Linked DNA regions of Homo sapiens. The protein of the gene in region 1 purifies or fractionates together with the protein of each later gene. This does not show direct contact. Each region holds a gene or a part of one and is shown on either strand. Other genes may lie near its edges.

What was found. Proteins that work in one complex are often made in the same cells at the same time.
Region 2: the proteins of MCF2L2 (region 1) and SFXN1 purify together in Homo sapiens (affinity purification with mass spectrometry, with the first as the bait; one large-scale study listed by BioGRID). This does not show direct contact.

Annotation. Positions count from the first base shown.
Region 1 is NC_000003.12:183,292,312-183,296,568, reverse strand, and holds part of MCF2L2 (probable guanine nucleotide exchange factor MCF2L2), read left to right. Parts: exon of another isoform or gene 1-423; intron 424-1,091; coding exon 1,092-1,269; intron 1,270-4,257. UniProt on the Homo sapiens protein: Probably functions as a guanine nucleotide exchange factor.
Region 2 is NC_000005.10:175,481,560-175,485,059, forward strand, and holds part of SFXN1 (sideroflexin-1), read left to right. Parts: intron 1-3,500. UniProt on the Homo sapiens protein: Amino acid transporter importing serine, an essential substrate of the mitochondrial branch of the one-carbon pathway, into mitochondria.

The sequences.
Region 1 (4,257 bases):
GGCATGTGACAGAGGAACTTGACCTGGACTGGGGTCAGAGAAGGCTCTCAGGAAGAGTCACTTGAGCCTGGAGAACGAATAGACAAGATGGGAGAGCCTTTCCAGACAGGAGGAACAGCATGTGCAAAGGCTTCAGGGCTGGAGGGAGCCTGGCACAGTGCAGACCAAAAGGTCAGGGTGCTGGAACCTAGAGAGCAATGGAAGTGTGTTTTGGGTGAGGTTAGAGAGAGGCAGGCAAGGTAGGCTTTGTGGGCCACATGAGCGAGTTTGGATTTAAGCAGGGAGATAACTTGATTGGATTTGCATTTGAGAAGCATATTCTTCCATGAAGCCAGCAGGGTTGTAGGTAGCACACCTTCCTCTGAGAGCCACATCATCACCTTGTCTGCACCTCTGGTTTAGGAGCTTCTTTTAATCAGCTTCCTGGGCACAAAGAAAGGAAGAGAAGATGCAGTGGAGGAACAAACAGATTATATCCAGCCTGTCTAACTGTTTGTGTAATTCTGGGGAATGCCCTGAAGTCCATCCATGGACTCAGGCCAAAATTCTTTGCTCTGTCTAACATGACACAAGCCACATTGTATTCTAATTGTTTGTTTGTTTGTTTATTTCTGAGATGGAGTCGCTCTGTCGCCCAGGCTGGAGTGCAGTGGCATGATCTCGGCTCAGTGCAACCTCTGCCTCCTGGGTTCAAGCGATTCTCCTGCCTCAGCTTCTCAAGTAGCTGGGATGACAGGTGCCAGCCACCACACCCGGCTAATTTTTGTATTTTTAGTAGAGATGTGATTTCACCATGTTGACCAGGCTGGTCTCAAACTCCTGTGCCAGGGTGTTCCAGGCACTGGAGACGCCATAGTGAAAGGATGTAGTCATTGTCCTCAAGGGTCTCAAGTAGGAGAGGCTAATCCTTAGATACCCAATTCTGGAGCATGGCAGGACCTGCAGCGACTTGCATAGTGATGCCCAGAGGGGGTCACCTGAGGGAGGTAGGGATGGGGGGAGTAGGGGAAGGTGGGAGAAAGGGAATGCTTCGTGTCCTCAGGCTGTATACAGAGAGACCTGTTCATCATGATTTGCTTTTGTTACTGTAGGCCAAAGCCCAGAAAGTTTTGCAGAGGCTGGATGATGTCCAGGAAATATTTCACAAGAGGCAAGTGAGTCTGATGAAACTGGCAGCCAAACAGACTCGTCCAGTGCAACCTGTGGCCCCACATCCTGAGTCTTCACCAAAATGGGTGTCATCAAAAACCAGCCAGCCCTCCACCTCGGGTAGGTTATTTGAGGAAAAGAAGCTTTGTGGCTTTTGTGTTTCATCAGCACCATGAGGACTGTGACTGGTTGTCTACAATGGATAATGGTCGCTGTTTTAACAGATACTATTTAAAACAAACTACAGATATAGCATAGTGCAGACATGGAAGACATAAACACTTAGATAACACCAAGTGCCTGGATGCAAGGAGAAACACACAATCTACTGAAGGAATAATAAAAATGCATCATAAAGGCCGGGTGCGGTAGCTCACGCCTGTAATCCCAGCACTTTGGGAGGCCGTGGCGGGTGGATTATCTGAGGTCAGGAATTCGAGACCAGCCTGGCCAACATGTTGAAACCCATCTCTACTAAAAATAGAAAAATTAGGCTGGGCGCGGTGGCTCACGCCTGTAATCCCAGCACTTTGGGAGCCTGAGGCGGGCAGATCACGAGGTCAGGAGATCGAGACCATCCTGGCTAACACGGTGAAACCCCATCTATACTAAAAATACAAAAAATTAGCCAGGCGTGGTGGTGGGCACCTGTAGTCCCAGCTACTCGGGAGGCTGAGGCAGGAGAATGGCGTGAACCTGGGAGGCAGAGCTTGCAGTTAGCGGAGATGGCGCCACTGCACTCCATCCTGGGTGACAGAGCGAGACTCCGTCTCAAAAAAAAAAAAATATATATATATATATATACACACACACACACACATACACATATATGTATATACACATATATATACACACACACACACACACATACATATATATACATATATATATATAAATAAATTAGCCTGGGCATGGTGGCGGGCGCCTGTAATCCCAGCTACTCAGGAGGCTGAGGCAGGAGAATTGCTTGAACCCGGGAGGCAGAGGTTGCAGTGAGCAGAGATTGCGCCATTGCCCTCCAGCCTGGGCGACAAGAGCAAAACTCTGTCTCAACAACAACAACAACAACAACAAATGCATCATAATAATAACATAATAATAACAGCATAAAATAGACCCCATTCAGGACCTTTAAAAGGCCCATGTTTTATTAGCAATGGAGTAGTAAAATTGGTTCTTTGAGCAAAGATTTAAAAAATAGGTAAGTTCTTATGCCAATCCCACATGGTCCTGATTACCATAGCTTATTAGTCAGCCTTTAAGATCAAGTCATGCGATGTTCCAACGTTGTTCTTTTTCAAGGTTGTTTTGGCTATTTTAGGTCCTTTTCATTGTTCCATAAATTTTAGAATCACCTTTCAATTTCTGCTGGGATTATGATAGGGATTACACTGGATATATGAGCTAATTTGGAGAGAACTATTATCTTACCAATATTGACTTTTCCAATTCCTGAATATGTTATAACTTATGTTTTTTAGGTCATCTTTAATTTCTCTCAACAATGCAGTCGTTTTGAGTGTAAAGGCCTTAGGCATTTAACATTTTTTTAACCCTATAATGAATGGAATTTACCATATATAATTAAGAATAGGAATAGATTTCTATATAGAAATATAATCCTATCATCTGTGAATAGGGATGCTTTTACTTTTTTCTGTTTCAATCTTTATACTTTTTTTCTTGTCATATTATAATGACTGGGACCTCCACTACAATGTCAAATAGAAATGGTGAGAGCAGACATCTGTGTGTTTTCCCAATATTAGGAAAAGAGTTCAAGTTTCATCTTTAAGTATGATGTAAGCTATAGGTTTTCCACAGATGTCTTTTATCAGATTGAGGGAATTCTCTTCTATTTCTATTTTTTAGGAGAGTTTTTATCGTGAATGATTATTGAGTTTTCAAATGCTTATTTGGTCCATGTATTGAGAGAATGATATGGTTTTTCTTCTTTATTTGTTAATATGGTAAATTACAATGATTTGTTTTCAAATGTTAAAACAACTGTACATCCTTGGAATAAACTGCCCTTGGGCAGGATGTACATGTCATTTGTTTGTGTCGTGTATTGTGGACCTCTGTCATTAAGCACATACATATTCATGGTTTTTATGTCTTTCAGATATATTAGCTCTTTTATAATTATGAAATGTCTCTCCTTCCCTCCTTACCTCTAGAAATACTCTTAAAGTCTATCTTGTGCGATATTGTCACAGCCATTCCAGTTTTCTCATGCTTAGTGTTTGCAGAACATATTTTTTTTGTTTTCTATTCTTCTGTCTTTGTATTTAAAGTATATTTGTTGTAGGCAGCATATAGTTGGGTCTTGCCTTTTTATACACTGTGACCTCTGCCTTGTAATTGGAGTGATTAGATTTTTATGTTTACATCCATCATCATTATTGATATAGTTGGATTTAGAGTTCCTGTTTTGTTATCCTACATGTCTCATGTGCTTTTTATTCCTCTTTTCCTCCTTTCCTGCCTTCCTTTGGGTTAGTAAATATTTTTTAATATTTTGTTTTAATTCCTCTATTGGCTTGTTATCATATCTCTTTGTACTGTTTTTCACCAGACTGGGGATTACCATATGCATCCTTAACTTGTCATGATCTATTGAATTAGTTTCATACCATTCTATGCAAAATATAGGAAATCATACTACATACTACAATGTCATACTTCCATATGCTCCCCATCCATCCTCTGTGCTATTCTTATCATAAATATCACATCTATATATGTTAATCCCCCACTATGGTATTATAATTTTTGCTTTAAATAGTCATGTATCAAATTAAGAGAAATACATACGTGTGTGTGTGCATGTGTGTGTGTGTGTGTGTGTGTGTGTGTGTGTACATACCCCCTTATTCACCATTTCTGGGGTTCTTCATTCCTTATTATAGATTTGAATTACTATCTTGTGTCATTTCTCTTCGGAATAAAGAGCTTCTGTTAGTATTTATTGTTGGGGAGTCTACTAGCAACAAATTCTTTTCTTGTCTTTATTTTTTCCTTTTTGTGGAGAACGGGGTCTTGCTATATTGTCCAGGCAGGTTTCGAACTCCTGGGCTCAAGCTATCCTCCTGCCTCTGCCTCCCT
Region 2 (3,500 bases), on another chromosome or scaffold:
CACCTCAGCCTCCCAAAGTGCTGGGATTACAGGTGTGAGCCACCGCGCCTGGCACATGGGTGTTTTAAAGTTAGTAGAATAGTGGGATCTGCATGGGAGGGGAGAACATGGCAGTGGGAAAGGCAGGAGGCCTTGATTCTCCATGTCTTCCTGATGCTAGGCAGGCCCAACGTCTCCATGCAGAACTATCCTGGAACAGGGAAGCATATGCAACACAAATCCATTGCTGAGTGGAAATAGAATGAATCTAATGCTTTGCACAGAATTCAACTCTCTGATCTATAATTCGATCTCCTGTGTGGCCATGCCCATAAAAAAGGCCACTATATGCAGATGACCAGCCCAACAGAAATCAGGGAATTTGGTTTTTAGGCTCCTTGAGTTAGTGTGATTGTCCTTGGCAGACACATCTTCTCTGGCCTCCAAGGGTCAGAATTGAGTTTCAAAGTCAGACAGAACTGTGAAGGCTGTGTCATCTTGGGCATGGTACTAAATTTCTCCGAGCGGCTCTATAAAACAGGGGAAAAGATCTTGGAGGGCTGTCATAAGGAGTTAGCAATCTAACAATGCATGGAAAGCCTAGTGTCTGGGTGTTCCGTCATGTCCCCTGGACAGTGGACAGCAGTGACTGACCGGCTGTCTCACACCTGCCTGGCCCTAGTGAAACAAACTGGGCAATCAGACCCTTTCATAACTCTTTCAAAATACGGTAGTTTTGACCAACAGCTTTCCAGCTTAATAACGCAGTTATCATTGGTACTCTTTAGCCAAGATTAAAGGTCTTTGTACTAATTCCTCATAAAGCACATTCCCTGCTAACTTGTTTTCTACAAAATTTTGGAAAATTCTTTTTTTCTCCAGCAGTTAAGCATTTTCTTAGCATGCAGCTAAAAATTTGAAATAAAATTTATCTTGGAGATAAATTCTTTTTCTTACATGTTTCTGATGATCTTCAGGAAGCTCAGGAGCCATTCCTGGCCCCAGGAGCTGCATTTATGCACGGGACTGTGGCCAGTGAGGACAGGAGCTTCCACTCGTGGAAAACCAGCTTGTTAATAATGATCCCACTTTTGTTTGGTAACTTAATAAAGATTAATAAAGGCCTCTTATACTCTTCAGTTTGCTGATCCTACCAACTCTATGAGCCAACTCTTACCTGTGTTTTATAGATGACAGAATTGAGGCTCAGAGGTGTAAAGTAATTCACCCAGTCACATGTCTAGAAAGGAAATGATAGAATCAGGACTGAAATCTAGATTATATTTGCTTAAATCCGGTTCTCATTCCATAGGTTATCAGGGTAGATGCTCGGGAAATTACACCACAGGGCGGGGGGCCTCCATCAGCAAAAACCAGCCAGAAAAAAACAGCTGTGTGTTCGGTCTTTCCAAACCCAGGACCAAGCCAGTGTTGAGTACATAAGAGGCCTTCAGTGGATATGGAAGGCGTAAGTTAATTTTGTTGGTGAATGAATAAATAAAAAGACTTTGAGAAATCTATTGGGATGAGGCTCCATGAAACTATATTTACTCAAAACCTTAGTTAAAAGATTGAATTTAAACAGTTTTTAATTTCTCTATGAAATTATTTCCGTCTCTTTTTAGGGGTAAAATAATTTTTCAACATATATCATCTCTAAAATAATCTGTTCACTCAAATGCAGTATAATGTCATAATTATTAACAGTTCCAGGTAGCCGACATCATTGTGAGAATGTCTTTATGTGATAAAACCTCAAAGTCATTTTTCTTCTTAGCATAAGTGGCATCAGCCAACCACAGAATTTTTTTAAGTCCCACTTTTTTCTCATACCCCACCAAAATTTCTTAATACCGTTAAAATCCAAAAATTTCTTTAAAATCATTCATGAAAAAGATTCTTAGAATTAACACCTCAGTTGTCCGAGCACCAGGAAGCCACATTACAGCTAGTGCAATACACAGAGACCGTCTGTCACCAATCATTTTCTTCTAGCGCGTCTGTTCTAGCCCCTTTCTCTTCCCTCCACACCCCATTGCACCATTTCTTCAGCTCGTGAAAACTGAGCTTGCTGGACATGAGAAACCTGCCAGTGTGCCGCTGTGTAAACCATAACATTTTGCTGCTGCCTTTCTGCAGTCCTGAAGCCAGCTAATAACTGCTCAGTAAGCGCCTCTTCCACAGCTTCCCTAGGTCCCTCTGTGTCTCTGGTGGACTGGGGCCTGCTCCCCTGTCTCCTAGCCTCTCTGAGTGCCTGAAGGCACCACCCCAGCGCTTCTGCATAACTCTCAAAGCCTCAGGTGAACAGGGCAAAGAGAGCACCCTCCCCACTGACTGTCTCCGCACTCTCCCTGGCATCTTTCACTTGCTTCAGGTGCCGTGAAGCTGATGAACCCACACACTCTGGAACACATTCTTTGGCGTCCCGTGTAGTGTGTCCCTCTGAGGGACATTCTTCATGATCCTTGCCGCATCTGCAGTGGGAACGCAAACATCTTGTTCTCCAAAACTTTCTTTTGAAGTATCTGTGGTTTCATGATTATTCCTGTTCCCAGTGTCAGCACAAGGCTGTGCAGCATGACTTCCTCCAGCGCAGTCTGCAGAAATCCGGAGTCGAGAAGCCTCTGTCCTAGCACTGTCCCTATCCTAGGTCATGAAAGACTGTGATTGATGTTCAAGACACCTCTGTAACGAGATGTTTGATCTTTACCCAGTTTCAACCTTCCAGACAAGCCCAGGGGCCATAATTTGCCAGATGGATGGCTGCATAAGCCAGACCATGGAAAAACAAAGGCCATTCCTGCACAATCACCCCCACCCCATGACCTCGTTCCCTCCCCACGATGGTGCCCGCAGCAGTCCCGCCCCACAACCCGGCCCTCCTGACCCGTCAGTACCAGGTGTGCGGGGCACATGCCCTCAGCGCATCTCTGCCTTGCCCGGGGCCAGCAGGTGCACGCCGGAATGCTGCGGACCAACCAAGTGGCCCGGCCAGCCCTGACCCCTGCGGGTGGAAAAGGGTGCACCCTGGGGATCCCCACATAGCGGCCAAGGCCTTAAGGATACCAGCATCTCGCTCCCTGAATAGACTCTAGACACAAAATGGAGCCAGCACAGGGCGCGTCTCGGCGCATCCTCCTCAGCCCAGGCCCCGTGCGTAAGGAGCGCTCCGTGTCAGCGCGCTTGCTAGACCCCATTGATTTTTAGAGACGGGTTTTACTATGTTGCCCAGTGTGGTCTCCAACCTCCTAGGTTCAAGCAGTCCTTCCACCTCAGTCTCCCAAGTAGCCAGGATTACAGGTGCGCACCACCACGCTCAGTGCTGTTGACTTTAATGTGAATAGGAAATAAGTTTTGATGTTTGTTTGTTTTTTAAGTGGGGCTCCTGTTTTTTAAAAATGGATCAATTTACCTGGAGTGCAGGCTGCTCCTGAGCTTGAAGGTGGAAGTCAGTTCATGCGTGAAAGAAGTCTTGCCTAATTGAAACATGGCATCACGGTTAATAATTAAAATGTTATCTG